2 linked regions of the Homo sapiens genome follow. The protein of the gene in region 1 purifies or fractionates together with the protein of each later gene. This does not show direct contact. Each region holds a gene or a part of one and is shown on either strand. Other genes may lie near its edges.

Region 1 (15,993 bases):
TGGTTTCCTCCCAGATCCAGCTGTAGGGATAGGATACCAGTGGGCCCAGTGCAGCTCCTGAAGGAGGAAGCCAGTACCCAAGGAAGACTGGCCCCAGGGCTGTCTGACCCCAGATTTGGCACTTATTCCCAGGAGCAGCCAGGATAGGGGCCGCAAGGAAGAGGTAGCTGTGCTTTAGATCAGAGCCAGGCTGCCCTGGATCATCACAAGCTGGGACTAGATCAGAGCAGGCAGCCCTGTTGAGAAGAGGGCTGGAAACCGAACCTGGTTCTGTGGCCTAGGGACAGAGCCAGGTGGGGCAGGAAGGAGGGAAGGGGTCCCAATGAGGTGGGTTGAAATAAACCAGAATTAACATTCAGGAATCTGAATGTGATAAGGCAGTGAGCTCCCTGTCCCCAGAGGTATGCAAGCAGAGAGAAGCACCCTTGGTGGAGGGCAGTCCAGGAAACTCATCAGGGGCCTGGGCCTCAGGCCTTCCCGACCCCAGACCTTCATAAGTCAAGCCATCCTGCAGACTGCCTTGCTCAAACTCCAGATATAGCCTATCTGGCCACGCCCTAAGCAGGAGTAACATTCATGATGCATTTTAGAAGGGGTGTGTGGGGGAGAGAAGCCACAGAGCCCAAGTCCCTGGGGCTCAGCCTGGACATCCAGCTCCCTTTGTTCCTCTCCCAGAAGTGGCTGCGGTGGAAAATTACCCAGAATAGCGGCGCCAGAAGTCATAGGGGTCGCCAAACCACATCTCCCCAAGTAGCCCTGCTCAAGGGTCCACCCAGGACCCACTCCCTCCAGATGAACAACTGCTGGAGAACACAGAGAACAAAGCTGGCTTCTCCTCAGTGCCCCACCCCCACCAACACTCTAGAGGCTGCAGGAAGCTGGTGACTTCCCTGAAAATTTAAACAGCCCTTCCCAGGGAGGGGGTGGGATAGGAAGTGCTGGGTGAAGCCTAAATACCATTTTCTTCAGAGCTAGGCAGGTGATCTGGGTTTTCACCTGCTTGCTGTGTGACCTGGATCCAATACCTCACTTCTGAGTCTCAGCTACTGTATCTATAAAATGGGAATAACCCTTTCTGCAGTCCCTCTGCAGAGGCAGGGAGGGTGTTTTGGAGTCATCATCACAACAGATCTGCCTCACTGTTTTTTGTTTTGTTTTGTTTTGTTTTTTGTTTTGAGACAAAGTCTCTCTCTGTCACCCAGGCTGGAGTGCAGCGGCATGATCTCGGCTCACTGCGACCTCCACCTCCCAGGTTCAAGCAATTCTGTCTCAGCCTCCTGAGTAGCTGGGATTACAGGCGCACGCCACCATGCCAGGCTAATTTTTGTATTTTTAGTAGAGATGAGGTTTCACCATTTTGGCCAGGCTGGTCTTGAACTCCTGACCTTAGGTGATCCACCTACCTCGGCCCCCCCAAAGTGCTGGGATTGCAAGTGTGAGTCACTGCACCTGGCTATCACTGTTTTTGTTGTTGTTGTTGTTGTTGTTGTTGTTGTTTTTAAGACAGAGTCTCGCTCTGTTGCCCAGGCTGGAGTGCAGTGGCACAATCTTGGCTCACTGCAACGTCGGCCTCCCGGGTTCAAGCATTTCTTTTCCCTCAGCCTCCCGAGTAGATGGGATTACAGTCATGCACTACCACGCCCGGCTAATTTTTGTATTTTTAGTAGAGATGGGGTTTTGTCATGTTGGTCAGACTGGTTTCGAACTCCTAGCCTCCAGTAATCTACCCACTTCGGCTTCCCAAAGTGCTCGGATTACAGACGTGAGCTACTGCACCCAACCCGCCTCACCGTTTTTAAATGGGTTACCACATATGTAAATAGAATAGCTCAATAAATATTCACTCCATAACTGCAGGAGTTAGGGGAAAGGGAAAGAAGGTAAGACAAGGTCAACAGAAGACCTGCACCCCAGAAAATCCAACCCCCATGGGGCACAGTCCAACGTGGGGGTGGGAAGAATTTACATCTTTGCCACCAAAGAAACAAATCTTTGCCCCACAGCCTGGGATTACCAGGGCAACCCTCAACGTGAGGGTAGGGGAAAACAGAAGAGGGGATCCATTTTTCAGGGGGAACATGCTTGTCTTGGCAGTTTCTCTCCTCAAAGATCCTGAGACCTCCAAACAAGACCCTCGGGCCCCGGTTGGCTGGGGAGCGTTGAGCACGCCCAAGGAACGTGGACACAAGCCCCTCTGTAATGGTGTGCCTATCAGGGGTCAGGGATCCAGCCTGGTCCACGGTGACCCCGGCGGGCAGGTTCGGCACAGTTTACTTGCTGAGCGCTTACAGAGTGTTCAGTGCGGTTTAAACCCATTCACTCCTCTCGACAGCCTCAGGCGGTTGAGGCTGTTACCATCCCATTTTACAGATGAGTAAATTGAGGCACGTGGAGCGGGACGGTGAAGCGACTTGCTCAGGACCTCACAGCACTGCTGCCCCTGGTTTTGTCTGGACTGGAGGTAGCCGGAGAGCCGGGGCGGCTCCGCACGCGCGCGGGCCAGGGCAGCGGCTGGAGACCCAGGGGAGCCGGGGCGCAGAGCCAGACCAGCCCCGCCCCCGCGGGCCCGGCGCAGCCAATGGGCGCCCGGCCCGGAGTGGGGTGACGCGGCGTCAGCGCGTAACTCCCGGGAGCCCAGCCCTGGGTCACATGCGCCGCGCCCGCTCTACCCGGGAGGTAGGGAGGGGCGGCGGGGACAGGCTGGGCTCAGCCCCCAGTCCAGACACCTGGCCAGGAATGCCGCCAGGTGCGCGTCCCGGGCACCGGAAGGGCTAACACGGGACAGCCCCACCCGGGACTGCGTGGCGCGCCCAGAGCGGAGGATTCCTTCCAGGTCACCCAGCCCGGCCCCTGCCCGACCTCGGCGTTGCCAACTGGGAGATAGGAATTCGCATCTCCCCGCTTCCTCTCCAAGCCTCTTAGAGACTGAGAGGCAGCTTCTGTGGGTTTCGAGCCTTTTCGGGCAGGCGTCCAGCACGGGCAGGGCCTCTTCCAGGACGCTTGTCCTGTCCAGCCATGCCCTCGGTGCCCGGAGCTCAGCCGTGGATGGCAGGGCAGGCACTGGGCAGGAAAACTGGGTTGTCCACTCTAGCCATTGCCTAGGCTACTGAAACCCCTCCCCACTCCCAGAGCCCCCCTGCCCCCCTGCCCCCCTGCCTGGCCCTGCATATCCTTCACTGCTGTGGGAGCCAAGCTGGGACCTGCCCAGGTTATGGCAGAGGGGCCAGGCTGTGGGAAGAGACTGCTCAGAGCCTGAGTCTCCCCTCCCCCACTTCTCCATCTGTATATAATGGGGTCAGATGACTGTTGACATGGGTGATTCTGGTCCTAGATGACGCTCGTGGTCTCATTCCAGCTTGGGCTCTGTGGTGAGCTGGGCGAGTTCTTTCCAGCCCTCTCTGAGCCTCCATGGCCAGCTTTGCCCCTGGAGGCTCACACCCATGTGGGCACCTGCAGGCTTATCATGAGTCACTGAACACACCCTCTACCAAAGAGCTACTTGAACCCCAAAGATTGCTGCACAGTGAGGGGTGTAGCTCACAAAGGCTGAGGAAGACTGATACCTGTTCCCTGGGGGGTAACTGGCTGTTTGAGGAGAGGCCAATTGCATATTGAATGGGGTGAGTCTAGCCGGCAACAGGGAGAGTGAGGAAATCAATGTAATAAGGCCCCTGTGGGCATTGGGTTTACCACCCACTACACCAGTTTACCGATCAGGAGAGTAAAGAACAGAGTGAGACAGTGACTTACCCAACACCTACAGTTAAGCCTGCAACCCTAGGGAGGAATGGGGTGGACAGGAAATGGCACCAGACAATGGAGTCCACTCAATTTCCGGAAGCATCCTACTTACTCCCTAGTGCTGAGAGTAGAGATTTTGCGTCCTGGAATGTTGAGGGCCTGGGCTTGGAGGCCCTGGACAGACTCCTCTGAGGTCTGCCCCAAAAGCTCTGACAGGGACTCCTGTAAAATAAACTGATGGCATTTCTGGGTGGGTCATGCAGACCTGTCCAAGGCCTCAGGTTCTGCCCTCCCGCTGCCCCCAGGACCCAAAGGAGACCTTTTTCTTGGAAAAACCACAGGCTCCCACAATGCTTCCCTCAAGTGTGCAGCTTGAGTGCCCTGGGGCTCAGCTATGTGCTCAGAGCCTCCTCTCCTGCAGGCCCTGGAAGAGAGCTACAACACTTAACTGGCTGCAGAGTGTCCTTGACTCTGGGAATAGAACCAGGCTGCACATTCCCCAAGGGCAGGACTGGAGCAGCCCTGTCCCTCCCCTCTGGCACCAGCCTGGCACACAGCAGGCTCTCAGGAACACTGCTGAAAGCACAAGTGGCCTAGGTGTCCTGGTGAGTCCACAGTAGTGTCTCAGCACCAATCTACTCTCCACAGGGTAGGGACAGAGCTCAGGCCTCTTTCAGTGCCCACATTGCCTGGTACAGTGCTGGGGGCACATAATGAGCCAGGATCTATGCTATCTGTTTAAAGGGACCTGGGTTTGCAGCCCCCCACCCCCACTTCAGGAGCCCACTCCCCTTCTCCCCTGGGTGTGGGAACCTTTATCTCACTCCAACTGGTCAGAAACAGGGCTCTGCAGAGCTCCCTGGAGCCCAGGGAGGCAACTGGCCAGAGGTAGCTGGGTGCCGCCCCTTCTGGCTACGACTGGTGATGGCGGTGGTCCCAACACGGCCCCTGCCGTGACCTGACTCCTATCAGTGGGCAGGAGAGCCCCTCCTGAGCCACGCTCCCAGAAGGGCTGCTGTTCAGGGTAGGTGGGGCAGCTTTATCTGCTGGCCATGGAAGTGGTGTCTTTCCTGCCCACTTCATGGACCTGTCTGGGAGGTCTGGCTCTGGGTTGGGTACTGGTTCTGCCACTACTCCCTGTGCAGCCTGGGGCAAGCCTACAGCTCTTTCTAGTCCTCCATGTCTTCACTGGCACAGCAAGAGTTTGGGAAGATCTCCAGGTTCATCGGGGGTTTGGTGAGTCCACCCTGACTTGAGGTCTGTCCTTAAGCCCCAGCGAAGGGATTAAAGGGCCCTCGGCCTCCCAAGCCACTTGGAGAAGGCACAGTTCCCACAGGCTCCCACAATGCACCCCTCATGACCCCCTATGCCTCTGGGCCTGAGGGGCCTGCTTCCAGGAGGACAGCTACCTTACAACAAAGGGCTGCAGGTGCCCACCTCCAGGACAAGGGGAGAGGGGGAAGGAAGCCTTTTTAGAAAGGGAGAGCAGGCTGTGGGGATGGGAGGAGACAGGTTTCTTTTGGGGGGAATAAAAATGTTCTAAATTTGGTTGCGGTGATGATTGCCCAACTCTATGGATATTCTGAAGACTACTTAATTGTACACTTTAAATGGGTAAATTGTATGCTATGTGAATTATATCTCAGTAAAACTGTTAACAAAGTGTGAAGTCTACCTGGCTTGGAGCAGCAGTTCTCAAATTCAGTGCCCAGCACAGGCTCTGCAGATGATGCCCAGCCAAGCTGTGGGAGTCCAGCCGAGGGTGGGGGCTGGGGCTTAGAGGGGGTCAGGGGTGGCTCAGGCCTGCTTGCTCAAGGCCTGGGTGCCCTGGGCAAGGGTGAGTGGCCTCCTCCTGCCCATCTGGGACCTGGGGTGAGACCTAGGAACAACCACAGCACTTGGTCCTAGAGCTCTCAGGCAGGTTGTAGCAGGCTTACAGCCACTCCCACCGATGTCACAACCTGGGCCACGCACAGGAATTTTCCTGGCCAGGTAAGGGGCTGCTCAGGCAGCCTGGCCACTGGGGAAGGGTGGACTGAGGGTCCCCATGGCCACCCCTGCTTAAATAAAGCAGGTGGTCAAAACTGGCAAGCCCTTTGGACAGTCGTAGCCAATTCAACAGACCACACAGGCATAATTTGTTCAATTATTTATTTATTGTGGAGTATTTTACATGCAAGAACCCAATTAGAGAGAGGGTATCTGGAAGGAGGGCCAGTGGGGTGGATGGATGCTCTGAGCCTCGGGTGCACTGACCCACCCTCCAGAACCAGCTCTGCCCACAGAAACACATGACAGTGACAAAAACACTAAACTTCTAGGACGAGTGGACAGCAAACGCGACATTCAACACATTCCTCTTTTCAGTAGCCCCCAACAATCCTGAGAATCCTCACAATTAAGTGCAAACTTTAGGAAATAAATATCCGTCCCCCTCTCCGGGAGAGCCTGGAGGTATGGACAGACAGAAGCAGTTCTGACTCGGGGGCTGATGGCTGCTCCCTATGGCTGGTGGCCGCAGGGGAAGCCTGACTTGGACCCCACAGATAGGAAGGGCTGGTGACGGGCACTGGGGGAGGCGAGCACTTCAGGGGCTGACAGACAATGTCTCTGGGGTGGAAACACTTCTCTCTGGGTGGGGAAGGCCTACTGTAACCCAAGTGGGTGAGACGTCCCCAAAGCCGACAGTGCAGAAGCTCCCAGGGACCACTCCAGCAGTGCCAGAGGCTGAAGCCAGGCTGCAAGCAAGTGCTCCTCCACACTGCTCTTCCAGAGCTGCCCCAGGGGCTGGCCTGGCCCCAGGTGGGCCCATGGCCTACCCCAAGCCATCCAGAAGGCTGGGCCCAACTGAGTTAGAGATGCGTGTCTGCGGGGGCCCAGGGTGGGGTGTGGCAGCGGGAAGGAGGGGGGCAGGAGCGTGAGCATCGGCAGCAGCTGCCCTGCGAGCATCTGTTGCCCTTGGGCCATGTGGAGCCCTTGCCCCAACTCTCCGGGCTGGGTCCTCTCCTCCCCAGGGGCTGGAGTGACAGCACAGGCCCCAAGACCACCAGGTGGCATGGTGGGGTGGTGGGGGAAGGCTAGTGAACCAAGGCACCATCACTCACATGGAGGCGCTAATAGAAAGACAGGAGGACAGACGGATGGTCACCTTTCCCTCTAGCCCAGGCCAGCAACAACCCCTTGAGGCTCCAAAGCTCCTTGTCCCATGCACGCTGGTAAGCGAGCCAGTCATTCTCTCAGCCTGGCCACAGATGGCCTGCTCAGTGCCTGGAGACTGCCCAGGCAGGGCTACTCTGCAGCAGGCAGGCCAAAGGCCCATGGTGCCAGGGGCCCAACTGCACATAGCGCCATTCTCTGCCGCCCAGTGGCCAAAAAGGTAGGCAGGAGGGAATGGTTAGTTTTCACATCTCAGCAACAATGAACGCAGAAAGGGTTAAACACATTCCCAAGAAAATATTTTGACAAAATAAATATTTTAACCTATAATCAGGTATAATTAGTGCTTATAAGGAATCCCAGCAATAATTTAGTGTAATTAAGTATATACTGTATCTGTGATTTCTAACACTCACGGAGAGGCTGGTGGGCCTTGAGAGTCCAGGTTTCCTGACAGAGCCGCACCCCCTTCCTGGACCAGGCAGCCTAAGGACTGTGCTCCCCAGATGGTGGGGTCTGGGAGCAGAGATCTCAGGACAGGCCATCTCGCCAGGGCTAAGTGGAACCCACTCTGGGGCACCGGGGCTATACTTGCTTCCTGTGCAGGCCTCAAGCAAGAGCCCCCTCTGCCTACAGGTGGGGCAGGCTACCTCCGGATAGGAGGTGCAAGCAGGCCACCTGAGGGGTGGCTCCAGGCTAGGAAGGCAGGTGACACTTGTCAGCATGGCCAATGGCCTCCTGCCAGCCCATACAGGTCCACCACTCCCTGCTGCCCCTGGGGCAGCCAGGCCTCTCCAATGATGCCTGGCAACCAGCTGGCGCTGGCGCTGGAGCTGGAGCGGGGCAGTTCTGGGAGTGGGTATGAAAAACAGTTTTGCTGGGGGCTCCCCAGGAGGGCGCCTATTTCAGCTTCACGCACTATGGAATCCCTGCTCCTTTCAGAGCCTCCAGGCTCCTGACTTTTTGGGACTCCTGGTTCCATGAGGCAGGGAGGCTGGCTCTTCCCTCTGAGGACACTGGGTCTGGGATGCAGTGCTGAGGCTGCGGAGCACTGACTGCCCGAGGTCGGACCGCCCACCACCCGCAGGCCCAGCTCTGGCAGGGCCTCAGAGACAACCCAAGTCACAACCCAAAGGCAGCCAAAGGGCTGGGGCCTCTGGGTGCACCTGGGCCATCCCAGCCACCTTTTCTGCAGCTCAAGTGAAGCCAGCTAACTTCAGCAGTCTTCACATTCAAGCTGGCCTCAGGGGGGTCTGTCTTTGAGAAACATTGAGGAGGCAGGGGCTCATCAAGCATCAGGGAGCAGAAGGCCCAGGCAGGTGTGGCATGTGCTGCCAGAGAGGACAGGGCTAGAATCAGGCTGGCCACTCCACGGAGGAGCTTCCTGGGTGAACCTGAGCAACTGGAGTGAGACATCCCAGCTAGTCCCACCCTCAGCCAGACAGAGGTTTCCTCTCTGGAGGGAGCTGGAGGGCTGCTAGCCTGGCACAGGGTCCTGGGTCGGGCAGCACTTGCTCTTCACTGGAATAGTTCCTGTTGGTGCTCAGCATGACCCCCAGCTGAAGTCGCCATCCTGAATGCTCCCCAACGACCATGTCGCTGGTCTCTTCTCCCGTCAAGCCCAGCCCCCTTTCCCTGCTTGGCTGGTGGTCTGGGCCGTCCTGCCAGGTGGGAAGGGCTAACTACACCATGGATCAGGAACCTGTGCTGACCTAGGCAGTGCATGCTGGAGGGGACAGGAGCAGACTGACCCAGCGAGCTGGGCCCAAGACACACGGGGATGCATACAGCTGCAGTATTCTCCTTCTGAGCAACAGCAGCCTGGTGGGAGGTGTGGGGCCAGGTGTCTGGCTGGACCAGGGCCTGGGATGACCCGAGTCCCTTGCCCATGGCCAGGAGACACACCAGTGAGGACACGGGATGGGAATACATGTTACCAGCCCCTAGCTGCTCTGCCTGCCTTCAGGATCAGCTTGGGGAGAGAGTATAAATTGGTGGCCAGAGGACCTCTGAGGTGGGAGGAGGCCAGACTGTCAGGAGAGTCTGTGCAAGGAGGCCAAGGCCTATGCCAGGGAGCAGAGCAGGGGCCTTAGTGCTGCCCAGGCCTCTCAGTCACTGGGAACCTCCAAGGATGCCACAAAGCTGTTTGCTGCTGGCTCTTGAGGCAGATGTGTGAGGCTACGGCAGGCCAGGCCACAGCACTGAGTGTGGCCCATGTGCACATCTGTGACACTTCCCCAGGCAAGCCAGAGCAATACCTCCAGTGCAAGTCCCTCCACAAGCCAGGACCAGGTGTGCGGGTGTGAGCCTGCAGTGTGTGCGTGGCAGTTTGGTTTATTGGTAGTGTCGTCTCAGCAGCGTGCCACATGGCCACCATCTGCGGGCTGCCTGCTGCCCTCCCAATTGTCCTTGGCCCTCTCCCTGCCCAGGGAGCCTGCAGGGACCCTCGGTGCCAGGCTCGGCTGCTGAGCCAGCTTGGGTGTGAAGCCTGGGCTGGCAGCTGAATGATGGAGAGAGGGTCAAGAAGGTGAGAGACCCCCACCATGGAGACCCAGCAGAGCCTTCTCAAATGCTGATAAGCCAAATGTCACAAGGTGACAAGTCCAAGGAGTGAGACCAGGCCCATGAGTGCAGCACACCCTGCTCTTCCAGAGATGCCACAAAGCCCCTTCAGGGAGAGAGGGGCCCAGGAGGGCAGAATGCCTGAGAAGGTCGCTGAGCCAGGCAGAGGTGAGCACAGGGCGGGGCCGGGCGTGCTCTTTCTCCATGGGCGGGTGGAGGAAAGACAGTCCGGGTGGTCTGCTCAGGAAGCACTGCCTGGGGCTGGGCCACTCTGCCCGCTCTTCCTGGGAGGAAACATGGGCAGAGGGGCCCATGGTGGGAGGGGAGAGAGTCTCTGGCTGCAGTTGTCCCACCACTCAGAGAAAAGAAGTGGCTGAAGCTGGTCCTGACTAGTGGGAGGCCTGGGAGCAGACACGGTGGCATTTCCATGGAAACACAGGTGTGCAGGCCGTGTGGAGCTGGGGATGTAGGAGTGGCCAGTGCCCGGTGTCCACGGGGTGCGAGCGGGGACCCGCCATCTGGGGAGGCAAACCACAGAGCTGCTCACAGGGCGAAGAGGGCATCCTCTGACCGCTCTGGCTTCTTCCGGCCAGAAGGGTTTGAGGCTGGGGCAGGAGCCTCCATGGGGGGCGAGGGGAGGTCGGGAACCATTTCAGCAGCTTTGGCTCTTTCTTCAAGGAATTTATCAAACTCTGCAATACAAACCAAGGCAAGGGTCAGGGTTGGTGAGGGCAGGCCACCAGAGGAAGCGCACCCTTCCACTCCCCAGCCCGTTTCCTCCTCTAGGGCAGGCATGAAGCCCACCTAGGAGCAGGTGGGTAGGGAGGGGTTCGTGAGCTGCAGTGTGGGGGGAGGCTCCTGGCTGTGCCCAGTCCTCCTGCCCTGGAGGGAAAGGCTCTGGAAAACACAGCCCAGAGTGCTCACCCTACCGCTGACCATTTTCCAGATCAGCACTGGGTTTTGTCCATTTTCCAGATCAGCACTGGGGGTGGGGCAGGGTAAGCTGGAGGGGCCAGCTTCTGATTAAACAGGCAGGAACCATCCCACCTACCCCACCCTTGCCCACCAATGGAGGACTGAGGAGATGCTGAGGAATGCAGTGGGGAGGGGGGAGTGCCCCATTTCTATGGGCACTGAGAGCTAGGGAGCAGGGTCCTCTGAAGTTTCCCTCCCTGCGGAGCGGTCTGGCCACAGGGTCTGGCAGACCTGGGGAGAGGAGGACAGGAGCACGGAGAGGCAGATGGAGTGGGGCAAGATGAGCTTGGGGAGGCAGGATGTGAAGGGCAGGGGATGTGGGGGTGGCCATGTGGGAGAACTAAGACCCCGCTGCTCCCATCCAGCCCATCAGCTGAGGCCCAGGAGAGGCTCCTCCCTTCTGGCTCAGTGGCCCAAGGGTGCTGCTGCGCACCTCCACAAACTGCGTGTCTGAGCTGGGCTGAGCACCTGTGGGTCAGGACCAGGTGGCAATCTGCACCCGCTATTCACCAGCTCTGCAACTTTGTGGAATTGACATGTTCTTTCTGACCTGTTTCCCAATAAGCGAGATAAATCACACTTCCCAAATCAGCGTAAGACCTGGGTGGGACAAAGCCACCCGTGAAGCCCATGGCTCAGGGCCTGGCACCAGTAGGTGCTCTGGCAGCGGGGGCTCCAAGATGATGGGGGCTGGCTCCTGTGCAGCCTGCACAGAGGCAACAAAAGGGGGCTGTAAGGCCACTGGCCAGGCCATACCTTCACTTGTGACACCCTCCTCCAGATCATCACCCTTCTGTGGGAGGAGCAGAGAAAATGAAATTAGGGCACTGGTCCAAGCACTGCCCGCCCAGCCACCTCTGTCTGCCCATGGCCACCCTAGGACAGCACTGCCCAGGGTAGCCTGAACAAAACTTCCTAATTTTCCCTGTTTCCAGATTTCTGTAATAGTAAAATACTGCTCTTCTTATTGGAGAAACAGAAGCTTTGTTTTTAAAAAACAAAAGCAAAAAATTCAAACATGTTTTAGGTTTTGATCCTCCAGAAAGGCTGGAAAGAAAACTCCAAAAACGGTGCAGGCTGGTTCTCCAGCCTGGGCTGCAGAGGGCGGGACCCCACCTTTGGCACTCTTGAGGCTCTAGGGAGAGGCACAGAGCAGTAGCCACAGGGGGCTGAGCCTGAGCACACACAGGGTCACGTGTGCCCAACACAACACCCACTCACTGCCAGCCACAGGGTTTCTGGGAAGACGCTGTTGACACCAATAGCTGGAAACCGCATGAGGCCTTGATGGCTCAGGGCCACAAAGCCCACAGCACAGGGCCTGTCACTCAGTAGGTACTTTGGGAGTGGAGGCTGTGCCTCCAGAAGCCATGTCCTGCAGCCTCCTGGGAGCTGCACCAGCCTCCTCCCGTGGCCCAGATTATATTATCTGCTGCTGGCTCCTCAAGGAGCCATGGAGGCTCTGTGCACTCAAAAATTAAAGTGCATCAGACTTGATTTTGTTTGGAGAACATGGTAGTGTCTTGAGCTCATGGGGTTCCCTGGGGACTGGGGAAGAGCAGCATGTGCAGGGCCTCATTGGGAAGGGGCAGGATGGGGAAGTGACAAAGCCCTGGGCTGGGCTAGGAGACCTGGGTTCCTTCCTGACTCTACCACTGACCTGCTATGTAGCCTTACTGGACACATCCCCTCCCTGTCTGGACCCTGGGGTCCCCCTTAGAAGTTAAGGACCTTGGTCCTTCCTGCCTTGCTTCTGTGAGAGAAGCAATTTCTTTTCGAGACAGCCCCTTGGGAAAGATGTCCCGGGGTGTGTTCTTCCTCCCTGACACCCAGGCAGCTGCCTTCTTTGGCAAGGCATGTGTTTGGAAAGCTGACCTTCTGGGGAGGAGGCCCAGAGCAGCCAGAGGCCCCAACCTGAGGCCTGCTGTCCTGGTGTGGGAGGTAGCCAGGTCACCAGCCCACAGACAGCCAGGCTGACCCTGTGGTTAAAGAACTCAACAGGCTCTTCTGCCTGGGGACAAGGCCCCCTACAGAGGAGGCACCTAGGAGGGAGATGAGGTGTCTCCAGCTCTGGGGGAGAATCCAACTACCCCATGACTCTGGGCAAGCCACTTCCCAGAGTGCACTTCTTCATCCGCCACCCTGGCCCCCTACTGGGCTGCTGAGAGTGAAAGTGCTTTGTAAAGAACAGAGGGAGGGGCCAGCAGTTATCACATGCAGCCACTGCAGCTCTCCTTTCTTGGGACCTGTTGCCATTTTCAGATGCATAGTATCCTCATCTTCTAGCCCTATCTCTGAGGATGGAGACAATGGGTCTTTGGGGCAGGGGTTCTTTTACATCAAAAATCAGGAAGGGAGGAGGGGGATGACAGCCAATTAAAAACAAAAGCACTGTGTGTATACTTCACAATTAAAAAAAAAAGAAATGAAAACAAAACAAAACAAAACAAAAAACATGCTCCCCCAACACTCCCTCCCCCAAAAAACCAAAGCACGGCACATACATCTGAAATGGAAAAGATACTGGGGGGAAGGCAAGTGTGTGTTTTGGAGCCAGCTACGGCTAGGACTGTGTGGGTGAAGGAGGCTGTGCCCAAGGCCTTGCCCCCAGCACAGTTGGCCTCCGCAGGCCGGGAGGCCACTGCAGCACCCACAGCTATGGGCTGATGTCGGGGAGGAGGGGCAGCTATGGAGCTTGCCCAGACCTCCCTTCTCCACTGACCCAGACAGGGGTGGAGCCCCTGCTGATGCTCCCCCAAGGCCTGTCCTCAGAAGAGCCTCTGCCGCTCCACACCCCACAGATGAAATAGAAAAGTCGAGTCTCACCAGGTCGGTCCTGAGCCACACCTCAATGTCGTCCATGACAGATGGCTGCGCAACGGGGATCTATGGAGGCGGCAAGCAGCGGGCCAGGCAGCCCCCACACAGCCAGCGAGGGGAGACAGAACACCGGAACAAAGGAAATCATCAACAGCAACCCCAAATAAAACCAAAATGTACACAGAGCAAAAAAACACAATTGGCACAGCACACAGGGGCAACACAGGGCAGCCACGTGTGAGATGGCAGGTGAGGAAAGCAATGAGGTGCAAATGATAAGAAGCAGGCTCCCGGCAGGGCCGGCGGTAAGGAAGGTGGCTGTACGCGTTCTTGAAATGGAGAACTTTTTGACTATGAGTGTCCACTCTCACATTGCGGGGCCTCTCAGCCCGGGGCTGCAAAACACCTTCTAACTTCAGGAAGGCGCTGCCACGCAGGCTGATTTTGAACTCAGCCACTATGACAGTCCGCTGTCAAGCCCAACCCAGGGAAGGCCAAGTGACAGCCTGCCCAGAGCGGGGTACAGGTGCTCAGAGGGCAGGGCAGCACCAGCCCCGGGGGGATGCAGGGGGTCTGTTTGCTCCGCTGAAGAGATTTTGAAATGCGTCCTGGTGCATTTCTGAGTGGAGAGGGGAACTGGAGGAGGTGCGTGCTCCGCTGGGCTGGGTGTGGCCTGGTAGACAGAGGCAGGCACATTTTACCATCAACAGAAACACAGCAAAAACGAGGGCTCTGATGACAAAGGGGACTATGGGGCTTTAGTCTTCTTTGTGTCTCTTTAGGGGAAATTCATGAAGCAGCCCTGAAAGCAACAGCTCCCTTTAGTCTCGTCCTTTCTTCCCTGTGTTCAATGGCTGGCTGTGCTTCAGGAGTCAAAGAAACCAAGTTCAGCTGAGCACTGGGGCGCAGCAGCCAGAGCCAGGGAGGTGACAGCTTCCAGGCATACTAAGGTGTACCACGGGGTTGCCTGAGCAGTCACCTTGCTTGGGCCCCTGTGCCAAGCACCTCAGGGACAGAGACTCTGAAAAATGCACATGGCTAAAAAGGTTTAAGTTGCCATCAAATATGACATGATAAGAAGCTCCCTAGAAGCCATGTTAATGGAATGTTGGCTCCCAGCCTAGAGAAATGAGGTGATGACCCTTAATCACCTCCTCACCTACCCTGGCTCTGGGAGGTACCCTTCCGGGGCTCACTTGCAAGACCCCTATTTCTATTACAAAAATGCCAGCTCTGTCTATAGCTGGCTTCACCCAATGCCATGATCTAGGGTAAGACTAAAGTAAAAATAAGCAGTAAAAGGAATGCATACCCCAGTGTCTATCAAATGTAAAAAATAACACGACCTTCACAAAGAAAAAGAACAAAGAACACATATCACCAGCAGTGATGTGACAACTCCAGTCCTGGGGGTTGACACCTGCTGCTGATGGTGGGGGAGGGTGGTTTGGGGTCCCAGGTAGAGTCCAGCACTCTGAGCAGGTATCTACGATGCCACCAGAGCTCTTCACTCCCTCAGTGAGCTCAGCTGGCCCCTTGCTCTGAGGAATGTGCTCTGTGTCCTAACTTCGGACCCAATGTGGGAAGCCCACAAGAGCACTTTCAGAAAGGCCCAAGCCAGTCACTGATCAGATTAGGAAGAGTCTGTGTTGCTCATTATTTCTTTGACTTACTGGGGAGTTAAGAATGTTGAATTGAGCAGGGCACGGTGGCTCATGCCTGTAATCCCAGCACTTTGGGAGGCCGAGGCGGGCAGATCACCTGAGGTCAAGAGTTTGAGACCAGCCTGACCAACAGGGAGAAACCCAGTCTCTACTAAAAATACAAAATTAGTTGGGTGTGGTGGTATGCGCCTGTAGTCCCAGCTACTGGGGAGGCTGAGGCAGGAGAATCACTTGAACCTGGGAGGCAGAGGTTGCAGTGAGCCGAGATCACGCCATTGCACTCCACCCTGGGCAACAAGACTGAAACTCTGTCTAAAAAAAAAAAAAAAAAAAAAAAAAAGAACATTGAATTGAAAAGGTATCAGGGAGTCTTATCACCCAGACATGAAACCTAGGGACAGGAGGCATGTGGGTCCTCACTGGGGGGATGGACGCACAAATGACTGACAGATGTGTTAACAATGCCTAAGGCTGGCACTTCCTTGCCCTTGCCCATCAAAAGGCAGTAGGGTACACTGCTACTCTGTGCTTGCTGGCAGGCCTTCTGCCTTGAGACATTCCTGGAACAGGACACACCAGTTATCATGCTCTCAATGACTGTAAGTCAGAATGTGTGGCCTCTGGGAGGACGCATGCCATGCTGAGTCCCCAAAACTGAAGCTTAGAAAGTCAGCAGCATCTCCAGAGAGAAAATAGTCCCACACTAGCGGTTAGAGTGTGCACCAGCCCTTTCTTTACACCTGACCAGCTTTTGTCCACTTAGCAGAAACAGACTAGATGTCCTGAGCTTTCCAATGTGTTGCAAAAGCTACAACAAAGACATTAAGGGGTCAGGGGCCTTAAACCTTCAGATTTTTCTTGTAATTGTTTTGTTGCTGCTAAAGAACAAATCCCTTGAGGCCTGGGGTCATACTTTAATTTTCTTCTTTGGGGATAAATCTTGAGAGCCAACATGCTCAGAAAATAAACAATGACACTTAAGAAATTCCTCACCTCCTCAAAAATAACTTCCCAAAAGCTGGCTCATGGGAACCCTTTTCTTCCATGTCCTAGATTTTTCCAAATAAGTAGTATG
Region 2 (16,053 bases), on another chromosome or scaffold:
TTATTGTTTTTTTGAGACAGAGTCTCGCTCTGTCTTTCAGGCTGGAGTGCAGTGGCATGATCTCGGCTCACTGCAACCTCAGCCTCCCAGGTTCCGGCCATTCTCCTACCTCAGCCTCCAAGTAGCTGGGATTTACAGGTATGCGCCACCACGCCTGGCTAATTTTTGTATTTTTAGTAGAGACAGGGTTTCACGGCGTTGGCCAGGCTGGTCTCGAACTCTTGACATCAGGTGATCTGCCTGCCTCGGCCTCCCAGAGTGGTGGGATTAAAGGCATGAGCCACCACACCTGGCCAGAACATAGTTTATTCTTAAAGGGTTGGGGTGCATGACTTAACCCTTGCTTGGTATGACCTTATGTCCTGTTTATAATTGGCATCTTGGTCGCACGCGGTGGCTCACGTCTGTAATCCCAGCATTTTGGGAGGTTGAGGCAGGAGGATCACTAGCTCAGGAGTTTGAGACCAGCATGGCCAACATGGTGAAACCCCATCTCTACTCAAAATACAAAAATTAGCCGGGCGTGGTGTTGCCAGCCTGTAATCCCAACTACTCAGGAGGCTGAGGCAGGAGCATCTCTTGAACCTGGGAAGTGGAGGTTGCAGTGAGCCGAGATCGAGCCACTGCACTCCAGCCTGGGCAACAGAGAGAGACTGTGTCTCAAAAAAAAAAAAAAAAAAGCATCTTATTACCACAAAGCATTTGTTGTGTCAGTCTTATGATCTCTATTTTAGCATTAATGCTGGTCAATTGTTGTGTCTAAACTGTGAAAGGGATAGGGTATAACCAAGTGTGTCTGACTTCCTGTTCCATCATGGCTTCTCTGGGGTCCCCTGTACCAAAAGGGTGTCCATTTAGTCCGTTGGAAGGTTTAGGATTTTATTTTTAGTTCTCATGTGAGATCACTCAGTATCAGTGCATTTAGGACAATATAAATGTTATTAACAGTTGCATTCTATTCTTTTATAGGAATGTACCATAGTCTTTTAAAACAAATTCTCTAGCGATGAACATTTAATTTGTTTCCAGTCTTTTTTGATTATAGACAAAATAGCAATGGATATCCTTAGGTATGCACATTTTCTTTTTGTTTGTTTGTTTGTTTGTTTTGAGACTGAGTCTGGCTCTATCACCCGGGCTGGAGTTCAGTGGCATGATCTCGGCTCACTGCAACCTCTGTCTCCAGGCTTTATGCGATTCTCCTGCCTCGGCCTCCTGTGTACCTGGGATTACAGGTGCGTGCCACCACGCCCAGCTAATTTTTGTATTTTTATTTTTATTTATTTATTTATTTTTGAGATGGTGTTTCGCTCTTGTTGCCCAGGCTGGAGTGCAATGGAGCGATCTTGGCTCACTGCAACCTCCATCTCCAGGGTTCAAGCAATTCTCCTGCCCCAGCCTCCCGAGTAGCTGGGGTTACAGGCGCCTGCTGCCACGCCCAGCTAATTTTATGTATTTTTAGTAGAGATAGGGTTTCACTATGTTGGCCAGGCTGGTCACCAACTCCTGGCCTCAGGCAATCCACCCGCCTTGGCCTCCCAAAGTGCTGGGATTACAGGCATGAGCCACCGTGCCCGGCCTTATTTTTATTTTTTTATTTTTTATTTTTTTTATTTTTATTTTTTGAGATGGAGTCTGTTACCCAGGCTAGCGCAGTGGCTTTATCTTGGCTCACTGCAACCTCCACCTGCCAGGTTCAAGCAGTTCTCCTGCCTCAGCCTCCTGAGTAGCTGGGATTACAGGTGCGCATCACCATGCCCGGCTAACTTTTTGTATTTTTAGTAGAGATGAGGTTTCACCATGCTGGCCAGGCTGATCTTGAACTCCTGACCTCATGATCTGCCTGCCTCAGCCTTCCAAAGTGCTGGGATTACAGACATGAGCCACTGCACCAGACCTAATTTTTGTATTTTTAGTAGGGGTGGGATTTCACCATGTTGGCCAGGCTGGTCTCGAACTCTTGACCTCAGGTGATCCACCTGCCTTGGCCTCCCAAAGTGCCGGGATTACAGGTGTGAGCCACCATGCCCAGCCTGCACATTTTCAATATTGGTAAGTTGCCATTTACTCATCACAACTATCTACCTAGCTTCAGCTTGTGCGTCAGATAGAAAGTTATCTCGGCCGGGCGAGGTGGCTCACGCCTGTAATCCCAGCACTTTGGGAGGCCGAGGCGGGCAGATCACCTGAGGTCGGGAGTTCGAGACCAGCCTGACCAACATGGAGAAACTCCATTTCTACTAAAAATACAAAATTAGCCGGGTATGGTGGCGCATGCCTGTAATCCCAGCTACTCGGGAGGCTGAGGCAGGAGAATCGCTTGAACCCGCGAGGCGGAGGTTGTGGTGAGCTGAGATCATGCCATTGCACTCCAACCTGGGCAACAAGAGCGAAAATTTGTCAAAAAAAAAAAAAAAAAAAAAAAAGCTGGGCGCAGTGGCTCATGGCTGTAATCCTAGCACTTTGGGAGGCTGACGCGGGCAGATCACAAGGTCAGGACTTTGAGACCAGCCTGGCCAATATGGTGAAATCCCGTCTTTACTAAAAATACAAAAATTAGCCAGGCGTGGTGGCACGTGCCTGTAGTCCCAGCTACTCAGGAGGCTGAGGCAGAAGAATTGCTTGAACCTGGGAGGCAGAGGTTGCAGTGAGCTGAGATCACGCCATTGCACTCCAGCGTGGGCAACAGAGCAAGACAAGACACCGTCTCAAAAAAAAAAAAAAAAAAAAAGTGGACTCTCTGTCTCAGGAAAAAAAAAAGTCACCTGAGGTCAGGAGTTTGAGACCAGCCTGGCCAAGATGGAGAAACTGTCTCCACTAATAATACAATACACCGGGCTGGGCACGGTGGCTCAAACCTGTAATCCCAGCACTTCGGGAGGCCGAGGCGGGTGGATCACCTGAGGTTAGGAATTTGAGACCAGCCTGGCCAGCATGGTGATACCCGGTCTCTACTAAAAATACAAAAATTAGCCAGGCTTGGTGGCAGGCGCCTGTAATCCTAGCTACTTGGGAAGCTGAGGCAGGAGAATCGCTTGAACCCGGGAGGCAGAGCTTGTGGTGAGCCGAGATCACACCATTGCACTCCAGCCTGGGCAACAAAGCAAGATTCTGTCAAAAAAAAAAAATTAGCTGGGTATGGTGGCCCAGGCCTCTAATCTCAGCTACTCAGAAGGCTGAGGCAGGAGAATCGCTTGAATCCGGAGGATACAGTGAGCCAAGATCACGCCATTGCACTCCAACCTGGGTGACAAGAGAGAATCTCCATCTCCAAAAAAAAAAAAAAAATGCAAAAACTTAGCTGGGTGTGGTGGCACACACCTATAGTCCCAGCTACTCAGTACTCAGGAGGCTGAAGCAGGAGGGTCACTTGTGCTTGGAAGGTGGAGGTTGCAGTGAGCCATGATTGTGCCACTGTACTCCAGCCTGGTGACCGAGTGAGAGCAGAAAGAGTGAGAGAGAGAGAGAAAGACTCATGCTTTAGGGCCTCTGACAATACCTGTGTATTGTGTGCCTCAACTTTTTTTTTTTTTTTGAGACAAAGTCTCACCCTATCGGCCAGGGTGGAGTGCAATGGCATGATCTCAGCTCACTGCAACCTCCGCCTCCCAGGTTCAAGCGATTCTCCTGCCTCAGCCTCCCTAGTAGCTGAGACTACAGGCGCGTGCCATCACGCCCAGCTAATTTTTGAATTTTTAGTAGAGAAGGGGTTTCACCACGTTCAGGATGGTCTTGATCTTTTGACCTCATCTTCCACCTGCCTCGGCCTCTCAAAGTGCTGGGATTACAGGCGTGAGTCACGGTGCCAGGCCGCCACTGCCTCAACTTTTTGGGCTTATCCCTGGAAGAAGAAACTGCCACTACTTTTTCAATTTTAGAGCTAATTTGGTTCCATCCCTGATTTTACAGATGAGGAATCAGACTGAGAGAGAAGAGACTTGCCCAAGGTCACAAGGGGTCTATGTGATTAACTAAGACTGACCTCCTGGTTACCCATTTTGTGGAACAAAAACTATTTCATTTGCAGCATTTTCAGATGATTTCCAAGGTCTCCATCTTTCTTGTCTCCTTGAAAATGCAGTCCCAGAAATGCACAACTAATGCTTTTGTTAAGGGTCGTTGCCCAATATGCTAAATTGTAAGAAACCATCTCCCTCTGCTGGTAATATGGCATAACGACAAAGCTTAAATATAGGAGTCACTTGCATTTAGGAAAAACTATTGCTCCAGAACGAGGTTATGTCTGACAGTTTCTGTATACTTTTTTTTTTTTTAGACGGACTCTTGCTCTGTCGCCCAGGCTGGAGTGCAGTGGTGCGATCTCGGCTCACTGCAAGCTCTGCCTCCCAGGTTCACACCATTCTCCTGCCTCAGCCTCCCGAGTAGCTGGGACTACAGGCGCCCACCACCACACACGGCTAATTTTTTTTTTTTTTTGTATTTTTAGTAGAGACGGGGTTTCACCGTGTTAGCCAGGATGGTCTCAATCTCCTGACCTCGTGATCTGCCCGCCTTGGCCTCCCAAAGTGCTGGGATTTACAGGCGTGAGCCACCGCGCCCAGCCCCGTCTGACAGTTTCAACCACTTTGCTGTTGCCAAGACTCAGTCAGGATAATTTACTTCAACGAATGGGTTCACAGTAGAATGTATTCCAAGTAAATATAATCTCACAGAGTGAATAAGCCAAAAATCCATGAAATTGGTGAACTCAACAGAATTACTGAGTTTTTGTGTGGTTTTTTTTTTTGGTTTTTGTTTGTTTGTTTGTTTTTTGAGATGGAATCTCACTGTCACCCAGGCTGGAGTGCAGTGGCATGATCTCGGCTCACTGGAACCTCCACCTCCCGGGTTCAAGCGATTCTCCTGCCTCTGCCTCCTGAGTAGCTGGGATTACAGGCATGCGCCACCACGCCTGGCTAATTTTTGTATTTTTAGTAGAGACGGGGTTTCACCATGTTGGTCGGGCTGGTCTACGAACTCCTGACCTCGTGATCCGCCTGCCTTGGCCTCCCAAAGTGCTGGGATTACAGGCGTGAGCCACTGCGCTCGGCCGAGAATTACTTGAGTTTTAGAGACTTAAAAGCTGCTAGTGGAATATCCATGTGGAGATGGCAATAAGAAGCCTAGCTGTAAAAATCAGAATCAGAAACACCAGGTCAGTTCACAGCTAGAAGTCAACTTTGGCAGTCTTCAGCATACAGTGGGTGGCTTATACCATGAACATCTAGGTAAGAACAGTGGACTGAGGACAGACCCTGGAAATGAACAATATTTCAGAGTCAGGAAGTTGTGAAACCAGAGAATTAGTAAGCATATCACTTAAGCTTCTAAATAAAGACCAGTAACATTTAACACATGGTTGCAGTTTATGATGATAATCATTAAGAATACAAATAACAGGACGGGCAGAGTGGTTCACACCTGTAATCCCAACACTTTGGGAGATTGAGGCAGGCAGATCATCTGAGGTTAGGGGTTCCAGACCAGTCTGGCCAACATGGTGAAACCTGGCCTCTACTAAAAATACAAAAATTAGCTGGGCATAGTGGCAAGCACCTATAGTCTCAGCTACTCGGGAGGCTGAGGCAGGAGAATCACATGAACCCAGGAGGCAGAGGCTGCAATGAGCCAAGATTGCGCCACTGCACTCCAGCCTGGGCGACAGTGAGACTATGTCTAAAAAAAAAAAAAAAAGAATACAAATTATGAAATTTCACAGCAGGAAGGTTTTACTTCAGAAAGATTAATGGCATACTAAAAATACAAGAAAAAACACATTCCAAGTCAGATAACTTGGTTATAGCAGCCAAATGCAACACTACTGAATGACATGTATTTAAAACTGAGAGAAAAACAGGAACATGTCAGTAAGAATATAAACACATGGTGTTTGCTTATCTCCCTGCCTTTTTTTTTTTTTTTGAGACAGAGTCTCGCTTTGTTGCCCAGGCTGGAGTGCAATGGCGCAATCTTGGCTCACTGCAACCTCTGCCTCCTGGGTTCAAGCAACTCTCCTGCCTCAGCTTCCCAAGTAGCTGGGATTACAGGTGCTTGCCACCACATCCGGCTAATTTTTGTATCTTTAGTAGAGATGGGGTTTCACCATGTTGACCAGGCTAGTCTTGAACTCCTGACCTCAACTGATTCGCCCACCTCAGCCTCCCACAGTGTTGGGATTATAGGCGTGAGCCACCGCGCCTGGCATCTCCCTGTCCTTATATTTTAAGAAAGGATGATTACAGAAGTGACAATTATAAATCTTCCTCGGGCAGACAAGACACTCCCATAATGATAATAGCTAACCCTTAGGACTCTTACTATGGGTCAGGCACTGTTCTAGGCATTTCAGCATAGTAACTGGTTAAATTCTTACAATCTACTTTTGAAGTAGCTATCTCTAATGTATACACTTGGGGAACTGAGACATAGAATCCTTATGTAACTTGCGTTAAGATCACACAGCTTTTTTTTTTTTTTTTAGTAGAGATGGGCTTTTGCCTCGTTGCCCAGGCTGGTCTCAAACTGCAGGGCTCAAGCGATCCCCCCGCCTCACCCTTCCAAAGTGCTGGGATTATAGGCGTGAGCCACCATGCCCGGCCACATAAATAACTTTTTTTTGAGATAGAGTTTTGCTCTTGTTGTCCAGGCTGGAGTGCAATGGCGCAATCTTGGCTCACTGCAACCTCCGCCTCCCAGGCTCAAGCGATCTTCCCGCCTCAGCCTCCCGAGTAGGTGGGATTACAGGCATGTGCCACCATGCCCAGCTAATTTTGCATTTTAAGTAGAGACGGGGTTTCTCCGTGTTGGTCAGGCTGGTCTCGAACTCTTGACCTCAGGTGATCTGCCCACCTTGGCCTCCCAAAGTGGGATTACAGGTGTGAGCCACTACGCCTGCCCTGACATAAATAATTTTTTTTTTTTTTGAGACAGAGCCTCACTCTGTCGGCCAGGCTGGAGTGCAGTGGCATGATCTCGGCTCACTGCAACCTCCACCTCCCTGGCTCAAGCAGTTCTCCTGCCTCAGCCTCCGGAGTAGCTGGGATTATAGGCGTGTGCCACCATGCCCAGCTAATTTTTGTATTTGTAGTAGAGACGGGGTTTCACCATGTTGGCCAGGCTGGTCTTGAACTCCTGACCTCAGGTAATCCGCCTGTCTCGGCCTCCCAAAGTGCTGGGATTACAGGCGTGAGCCACCGCGCCTGGCCAGTAATTTTTAGAGGTAATACTAACGTATTTATCTACCATTAAAGACCCAGGAGAACTTAGTAGCTGGGAATCCCACTGGTTCTCCCAACTGAGGTGCAATATTATCTTTACCGTCTTTACCTTACGGTAGCGGATATAGTGTTAATAAATGATTAGAATACTGCTTTATGAGCAGGAAATACTGTAATGATTTTCACCCTATCAGAAATAATAAAATGTTTTCTGCATCAGCAGATATTTTTCATCATTTGTTGGTGTTTAAAAATGTTTTCAGAATTCTGAAGATACCATTATCTGTAGTTTAGGAAAACTACGACTCACTTTAAAAGAAAAAAAGTTTTCTTTAATTGCCTGCCCTTAGAAAAGATGGTTCCACAGAACACACTTCCGGTACTCGAGATGAGGACTTCCCTTGAACGCCCATTCTGTAAGACAGATAACGCGTTGGCCCTTAAGAAAGATGGCATCTTTCCGCCTTCTCTGCCCCCTTCCAAGATGGCTGCCCTAATGTACACTTGGGACCTTGCCTGGCGCCTCTTCCGGGCTTGGCAGCGGGCGGGGTCCATTGAGTAAAGCCTTGCGTGCCTGCGCCCGCGACGGAGGCGCGCTTCAAAGCGCAGGCGCGGGGAGGGGGTGGGGGAGGAGGGAAAGCGGCGAGTAAGATGGAAGATGAGGAGGTCGCTGAGAGCTGGGAAGAGGCGGCAGACAGCGGGGTAAGGAGGAGCCGCCGTCCCATGGCAGGGCCGGGCGAGACCTGGCGTGAGGGGAGCCTCCGGGGAGCGGGTCTGGAGATAGTTCTCCCCAAGGAAGGGCCCCATACGCCGGGCTGGGGGTGGTGGAGAGGCCCCCAGTTCCTGAGCGCCGTGAAGGCCTCTTAAAGGGGCCGCGATCCATTTCTCTCCTTTCCTTTGCCTGGTGCGCCTCCCTCCGCCCACTAACGCGCGCGTCACCCGGGGCGCCCCACCCGCCACCCGGGGCCTCCTTTCCTGACCCCCCGCGCCCACTTGCTGGCCGTGGGCCTCTGTGACTCTTTCCGATGAGCCTTGTGGCCCGAGGCACCATTTTAAAGTTCTTGTGCTCTGACCGGGACGGACACACCATGTGGGTGGTGGTGGGGCTTGCGCGGACCAAGGAGGCATGTCCGGCTTCGCAGGAAAGCGGGAGGAGGCAGCCGAGGGCGGGGGGAAATTGAATCCTCTTTGGGCTACTCAACTCTGCTAAAATCCCCCACCATCCGTCACGGTGGACGAGTCGGGTTTTTTTTCTCTTTCACTTTTACTCCAAGAAGAGTTTGTGGGCAGGCAGGCAGGTCTCACGGGGACTCTGCCAAAGCAACCGAAAGCTCTGCGGGGCAGCTCCTCTGCCACTCAGCGATCCGAGGCCCCGGGAAGGTCTAGGAGTTCGCTTGTCGGAGTCCAGGGTGTGATATGTAAAACAGCCACATTCTTGGGAGAGGAGTGGGGAGATGGACCGTTCGACTTGTTTTTGGAGTTTTTGTTTGCCTCCAGAAACTGTAGGAAAATAGTTTATCTCAAAGAGGATCTGTCAATTCTCTTAGATTTGTGAATAATTTGGTCTTTTCAGAGTTTGTCTGTGGTGACCCTTGTGAATATGGGGAGATGCTTTTTTTGTCTCCCCGTGTTCGCGTCTGTTCAATGCTGGCTGCACTGACATCCACCTTAAAGGTTTACGTGTGCGAGGAGTCGAGCGTACCAGGGTAGAGTAGGCGCTGGGTTTTTTTTCCTAAGCGCTTTTTGGGGGTGCTTATGAGCTCTGGAAGAGGCCGGGAAATTGACCCTGGCAGCAGTCAGTGGGTGTATCTAGCTCTACGGGAATGTTGAAACTTGGCTTTGAAGTTTTTTCCGCTGGTTCAGCATTTCTCTCAACGGTTGTTTATGTTTTTCCATTTAGCATAATTGAGAATTTGAAGGATTCGTTCGTTCAGAGGATATTTAGTAGAGTTCTTAATGTGACAACCATCTTTCTTGAGTTTTGGCTTAAGAAAGTTAAAGATTTTATAGGGAGTAACAGGTGTCAGTTGGCTCCTTGTTCATTCAACCAGCATTTTTGAGTGTCTGCTATATGCTAGGCAGTGTGCTTATCAGTGACTTTGTGCCAGAAAATGCAACATTTTCGGTACAGGCGTTTATTGCCTACCACTAATCTGAGTGAATCATCCAGACATCCCTATAAAAAAGCTTGGCTTACAACTTTAATATCATGCAAATGATACGTTTCTTGGGCATCTTGGCCTTTCTTTGGTTTTCCTCACCTGTTTCAAAGGGTCATAAATCCCTCATGTTAGAGAAGTTGGAGGCAAATGAACAAAAATGAATAGGATTCAGCAGAAATTGGGGCTTACTTTAGTTTTTCAGAATGGGTAAGTCAATTAGAAATAGCTAGTACAGTCCCCCATTTAACAGCTGAATAAGCCTAGAGATGTGAGATTTAGAGACTTAGGTCTTTCTGACGCTTGTCGCGTGTTCTTTCTTTTTTCTTTTGGTTCCCAAGTTTTATTGAAAAACTTATACAAAATATTCCAGATAAATGAAATTTAATCCTCATCTTCCTCCTCTTTGTCCTGGTTAATCTGGAAGTAACATAATTTGTAGCTATCTTTGCTGTTAGTAACTAGGAGCAACCAATCACGTAAATTATTCTTCATATATGTTTTGGTGAGATATTTGAAATACCTTTTGGAGAAAGGCACCTCGGATGTCACGTTGATCTTGCTCTTACTCCTTTCAATGGTCGCCATCCCTCCACCAAGGTTCTCAGCTTTTCCGTTCACTTTGATCCTTTCTTGCAAAAACTGCTCAAAATTGGCAGCATCCATGATTCCATCTTCTACGGGGTGAGTGCATTCAAGAGTGAACTTCAGAACCTGCTTCTTTTTTTTGCCCCCCTTCACCACAGGCTTTTTCACAGAAGCCATGGCAGCAGCGGAGGCAGAAAGCCAGAGTTCTTTCTGCTATCCCTTACTTTAGTAATATCCTTTAAAAATGTACCGCGGCCAGGTGCTGTGGCTCACGCCTGTAATCCCAGCACTGTGGGAGGCTGAGGTGGGTGGATAACCTGAGGTTAGGAGTTCCAGACCAGCCTGGCCAACATGGTGAAACCCCATCTCTACTAAAAATACAAAAATTAGCTGGACCCTATGGTACATACCTGTAATCCTAGCTACTTGGGAGGCTGAGCCAGGAGAATTGCTTGAACCTAGGAGGCGGAGGTTGCAGTGAGCCGAGATCATGCCATTGCACTCCAGCCTGGGCAACAAGAGTGAAACTCCATCAAAAAAAAAAACAAAAAAAAAAAACTACAGAGGTGGAACACAAACCTTGCCTTATTGACATCATGAACACTTCTGCCAAAATGCAGGTTCTCTAATATATTTTATTTAATTGAATCCTTGAAACAACCTGTTGAGGCATTGTCCCCCTTTTATAGACAAGGAAACGGAGGTTTCGAGAGTAACCTGTTTTGCGCAAGATCACACAGCTGGGGGAAGCTGGGATTTGATCCCAAGCATGTCTGACTTCAAGGCTGGGCTTTTTTTCTCTAGCATTTTGCTGCTACCTCTCTACCTGGGGACATGTGGAAAATTTGGGAATTGGGTGTTCTTTCTTTTCCTTTTTTTTTTTTTTGTTTGAGAGAAGGTCTTACTCCATTGCCCAGGCTGGAGTGCAGTGGCTCAATCTCATCTCACTGCAACCTCTACCTCCCAGGTTCAAGCGATTCTCGTGCCTCAGCCTCCCGAGTAGCTGGGATTACAAGGCGCATGCTACCACGCCCAGCTAATTTTTGTATTTTTAGTAGAGACGGGGTTTCACCATGTTGGCCACGCTGATCTCGAACTCCTGGCCTCAAGTGATCCTCCTGCCTTAGGCTCCCAAAGTGCTGGGATTACAGGCATGAGCCGCTGCACCTGGCCTTTTTTTTTTTAATTTTTTTTTTATTTTTTGAGATGAGATTGCCCAGGCTGGGCCTCCCAGTAGATTATAGGCATGTGCCACTATGCCTGGCAGCTTTCATTAAAAAAAAAAATATTTATTTATTTTAGATACAGGGTCTCATTTGGTTTCCCAGGCTGAAGTGCAGTGGCATAATCATAGCTTACTGCAACCTTGAATTCTTGGGCTCTAGCAGTCCTCCTGCCTCAGCCTCCCAGAGTTCTGGGATTATAGGCATGAGCCACTGCCCTCAGCCAGCTTTCATTTTTAATAGTTTGTCTGGGCTTATATTTGAACGCTGTCTTGAATTTGATTCCCTTTTCAAATTTCACAAAGGTTCTTGTAAATATGCACTTTTGAAAGAGGGGAGCCAGGGAGATGTTATGTCCACATCACTGGGAAACCAATGGACTGCAGGCTATACATGTCTTTCATATATAGGCAATTGCGTAAAAGTCTTGGCTTCAGGTTATCCCCTCTTCCTACTGGTAATGAGCTTTGAATACCCTACTCCAAAACAGCAAAAACTGGGTGAAGACTAATAACCTAAATGGGAAAATTGAAACTACACAAAAATCCAGCGGCAGTTCTAATCCTTGGAAGTAAAGGATTTTGGAGATCCCTGCCCTCCAACACCACAAGAAAATTTTTGTCTTTTTTCTTTGAGACAGGGTCTTGCTCTGTTGCCCAGGCTGGGGTGCAGTGGGGAACACTCACTGCAGTCTCAGGCAATTTCTGTCTCAGGCAATCTCCACCCGCCTCAGCCTCCCAAGGTGCTGGGATTACAGGCATGAGCCATCATGCCCAGCCAAAAATTTTTTGACATCATGTAGAATTTCTCCCCTCCCCTCCCCTCCCTCTGCTCCCATCCCTCTGCTCCCCCCTCTCCCTTCCTTTTTTTTCCTTTTTTTTTTTCCCCTTTTTTTTTTTTCCCGAGATGGAGTCTTGCTCTGTCGCCCAGGCTGGAGTGCAGTGGCGCAATCTCGGCTCATTGCAAGCTCCGCCTCCCGGGTTCACACCATTCTCCTGCCTCAGCCTCCCGAGTAGCTGGGACTACAGGCACCCACCACCACGCCTGGCTAATTTTTTGTATTTTTAGTAGAGATGGGGTTTCACTGTGTTAGCCAGGATGGTCTCGATCTCCTGACCTCGTGATCCGCCCGCCTCGGCCTCCCAAAGTGCTGGGATTACAGGCGTGAGCTGCTGCGCCTGGCCCCTTTCTTAAGACAGAAGGGTCTTGCTCTGTTGCCAAGGTTGGAGTGCAGTGGTCGGAATACAGCTCACTGCAGCCTCAGCCTCCTGAGTAGCTGGGCCCACAGGCGTGTACCACTATGTGCCTGGCTAATTTAAAAAGAAAATTTTTTTGTAGAGACAGGGTCTTGCCATATTGCCCAGACTGGAAGAATTTTTGTGTGTGTGAGTCATCTGAGGTCATTGTTTCCTGTATAGCTTCCGAATTCTTAGTATCAAGTCCTATTGTGTCATTTGGAGAAAGACTGACTTTGAGAAGTCCCTCACATATTCTGTGAATAGACTTTTTGCTTTTAGTTAGTATGGCAAACACTTTTTTCTTTTTCTTTTTCTTTTTTTTTTGAGACAGGGTTTCGTCCTATATCCCCAATTGTTTAAGACAATCAATAAAATATGCCAGGCGTGGTGGCTCACGCCTGTAATCCCAACACTTTGGGAGGCTGAGGCGGGCAGATCACCTGAGGTCACGAGTTCAAGACCAGCGTGGCCAACATGGTGAAACCCCGTCTCTATTAAAAATACAAAAATGAGCTTGGCATGGTGGCAGGTGCCTGTAATCCCAGCTACTCCGGAGGCTGAGGCAGGAGAATCTCTTGAACCTGGGAGGCAGAGGTTGCAGTGAGCAGAGATCGCACCACTGCATTCCAGCCTGGGTGACAGAGTGAGACTCTGTCTCAAAAAAAAAGAGTTCATAGTGTTGGTAATGAGCTAACCCAGCTAGGGGAAGGCAGCAGATGATATAAAAATGTAATTGGACCAGTGGTTATTATAAAGCACTGACAACCTCTCTGATTTCCCTGTATCTTGCAAGTTTCCTTTTATTCTTTTTCTCCAGGTCAAGGCATGCAGCTAGTGGGAAGAAAATGCATCTTGAATAAGTTAAAGGATGACTGGTGTTCTGGATTAAGAATTGAAATTTATGTTTACTTTCTACCCCCATGAGCCAGTTATCCAAACATTGCCCCATCAGTGATGCTGGATGGTGTATGAGTCCATAGGAAGGTGTCATTAAACATTAAATAACTATTGCATACCAGGCATGGAGGCCCTGTTTAGTGGGGGAGTCAGACAGGTCCGGCAGCACCTTCAGGAAGAGGCATAAGTGGGGTACCATGGCTGGATCAGAGAAAGTCTTGTAAAGAAGACGATGCCTAAGTTAAGATTTGAAAGATCAGTTGAATTAAGCAGTGGTAAGTCTGGGAGAGGCAGGTAGAGTGTAGGGCCAAAGCAGGCATGGATGAGGAGGCCGAGAGACAAATACACAGCATTGGGAGGGCTACAAGTATTTCCTTCTGGCTGAAGGGGAGAGGGTTGGCAGGGTTGAGTGGAAAGAGATGAGACCACAGAGGTATGTAGGGGCCAGATTGGGAAAGGCTTCCTTGTACTTGGTTCTGGAAGCTTGAACTTTGTCCTGAAAGTGCAAGGAGCTTTGAAGTTTTTTTTTTTTTTTTAAGCAGAAGAGTGATATAGCTAGATTTATTTATTTATGTTTTAAATTTTTTGCCGGACACGATGGCTCATGCCTGTAATGCCAGCACTTTGGGAGGCTGAGGCAGGTGGATCACCTGAGGTCAGGAGTTCGAGACCAGCTTGACCAACATGGAGAAACCCTGTCTCTACTAAAAATACAAAATTAGCCAGGTGTGGTGGTGCCTGCTTGTAATCCCAGCTACTCGGGAGGCCAAGGCAGGAGAATCGCTTGAACCTGGGAGGTGGAGGTTGCGGTGAGCCGAGATTGCACCATTGCACTCCAGCCTGGGCAACAAGAGTGGAACTCCGTCTCAAAAAAAAAAAAAAAACAAAACACGTTTTTTTTTTTTGAGACAGGGTCTCACTCTGTCACCCAGGCTGAGCGCAGTGGTGCAATGATGACTTACTGCTGTCTCGACCTCCCAGGCTCAAGTGATCCTCCCACTTCAGCCTCAACCTCCCGAGTAGCTGGGACTACAGGCATGCGCCACCACACCTGACTATTTTTGATTTTTTTGTAGAGACAGGGTCTCACCATGTTGCCCATGTTGGTCTCGAATGCCTGAACATAAGTGATCCTCCCGTTTCAGCCTCCCGGAGTGCTGGGATTGCAGGCGTGAGCCACCACACCCGGCCCATAGTTAGATTAAATTCAGGAGATCAGAACTTTGATTTTCTTCTCTTTCTTTGGAGAAGAGGCCATTCTCCCCAAAGTGTGACTGCCGCTTCACTCTGGGGTCCCCAATGCTTTGTGTAGCTGCTGTCATTTTGGAACATGTACAACAAAACAACAAAAAAAGGCTATGGGTAGTGGGAAAAAAGAGATCAATTAGTTTGGGGCTATCTGGTGCTGATTTCTTTATGTCTGTCCCTGCAGTAAAAAGAAGGCATTTAAGATTTGTGGTATCACAGAAAGCACAGTTCCAGATACACCATGCCTAAAGGGGCCACCTCTCAGTTGGTGCTAGTCTTTCTGGAAAGGTTGAGCCTTATGGACTGTGATGTCCTCAGAAGGGGCTTTCTGTGAAGCAGTTGGGCAGTTTAGGCATGATTCTGCTGAGCAGTCTGTCCCTGGGACTCTGGAAAAAGGTTGGTTTCACTGTGGCTTCAAAGAAAGGAGGATAATGAGCTTTTCACTAGTAACTTCTCAGCCCTTTTTTCATTGGCTGCATGGGAGGGCCTGTTCCCAGCGTGCTCTGGGTATCAAGAGAGCTGCCATGGTTGCCGTGGGCTAGAAATTCCAGCAATCACAGGCCTTCTTGTTTTTACTTCTATGACAGGAGAGGATTTAGTGCGTCTTTCTAAAACTGTTGGTGCAGTCCTGCAGAGAAAAGTCACAGTTGTCTAGGTCTGATGACTGAAAACATTCCAGGGGCCAGCCCTTTCCAGTTTCCACCTCTCCACTGCTGTTGGCCCCGACAGCTAGCATCAGTTTCTGGCTGTATCAGGTAGCTAGCCTCTACAAGGTGTGTTCTGTCAGGAAAACTACTGACCTGTTGGTTTCCTAGGAGAAGGTTGAGTTTAGCTACTTAAATCTGTGGCCAAAGTATAAAATAAAATAAAAAAATTTTAATGTAGTATCCATAGAGATTTCTCTTCTTGAGTGTTTTTGTTTTGTTTTGTTTTTTTGAGACGGAGTCTAGCTCTGTCGCCGAGGCTGGAGTGCAGTGGCGCAATCTCAGCTCGCTGCAACCTCTGCCTCCCGGGTTCGAGCGATTCTCCTGCCTCAGCCTCCCAAGTAGCTGGGATTACAGGTGCTCGCCACTACACCCAGCCAATTTTTGTATTTTTAGTAGAGATGGGGTTTCACTGTGTTGGCTAGGCCGGTCTCAAACTCGTGACCTCGTGATCCGCCCGCCTCGGCCTCCCAAAATGCTGGGATTACAAGCGTGAGCCACCACGCCTGGCCTTTGAGTGTTTTTCTTAAAACCGTTTGCTCCTACCAAGCATCCTTCTCTTTAACATCTAGCTCTGTGCAGGATATTAAGGTAAAACCATGCCCCACAGAAATTAGCAACAAACCCCAATAGTCTGTATGGAGACAGATAATTTTTTTTTCTTTTTTTTGAGAAGGAGTTTCTCTCTGTCACCCAGGCTAGAGTGCAGTGGCGCAATTTCTGCTCACTGAACCTCTGCCTTCCGGGTTCAAGCAATTCTCATGCCTCACCCTCCCAAG

Evidence for each region.
Region 2: the proteins of TOM1L2 (region 1) and SZRD1 purify together in Homo sapiens (affinity purification with mass spectrometry; 2 studies listed by BioGRID and IntAct, with this or other methods). This does not show direct contact.

What each region holds. Positions count from the first base shown.
Region 1 is NC_000017.11:17,837,633-17,853,625, forward strand, and holds the end of TOM1L2 (TOM1-like protein 2), read right to left. Parts: intron 13,321-15,993; coding exon 13,261-13,320; intron 11,228-13,260; coding exon 11,191-11,227; intron 10,152-11,190; coding exon 10,003-10,151; 3' UTR 5,879-10,002; downstream 1-5,878. UniProt on the Homo sapiens protein: Acts as a MYO6/Myosin VI adapter protein that targets myosin VI to endocytic structures. May also play a role in recruiting clathrin to endosomes. May regulate growth factor-induced mitogenic signaling.
Region 2 is NC_000001.11:16,359,390-16,375,442, forward strand, and holds the start of SZRD1 (SUZ RNA-binding domain-containing), read left to right. Parts: upstream 1-7,852; 5' UTR 7,853-7,868; coding exon 7,869-7,919; intron 7,920-9,703; exon of another isoform or gene 9,704-10,162; intron 10,163-16,053.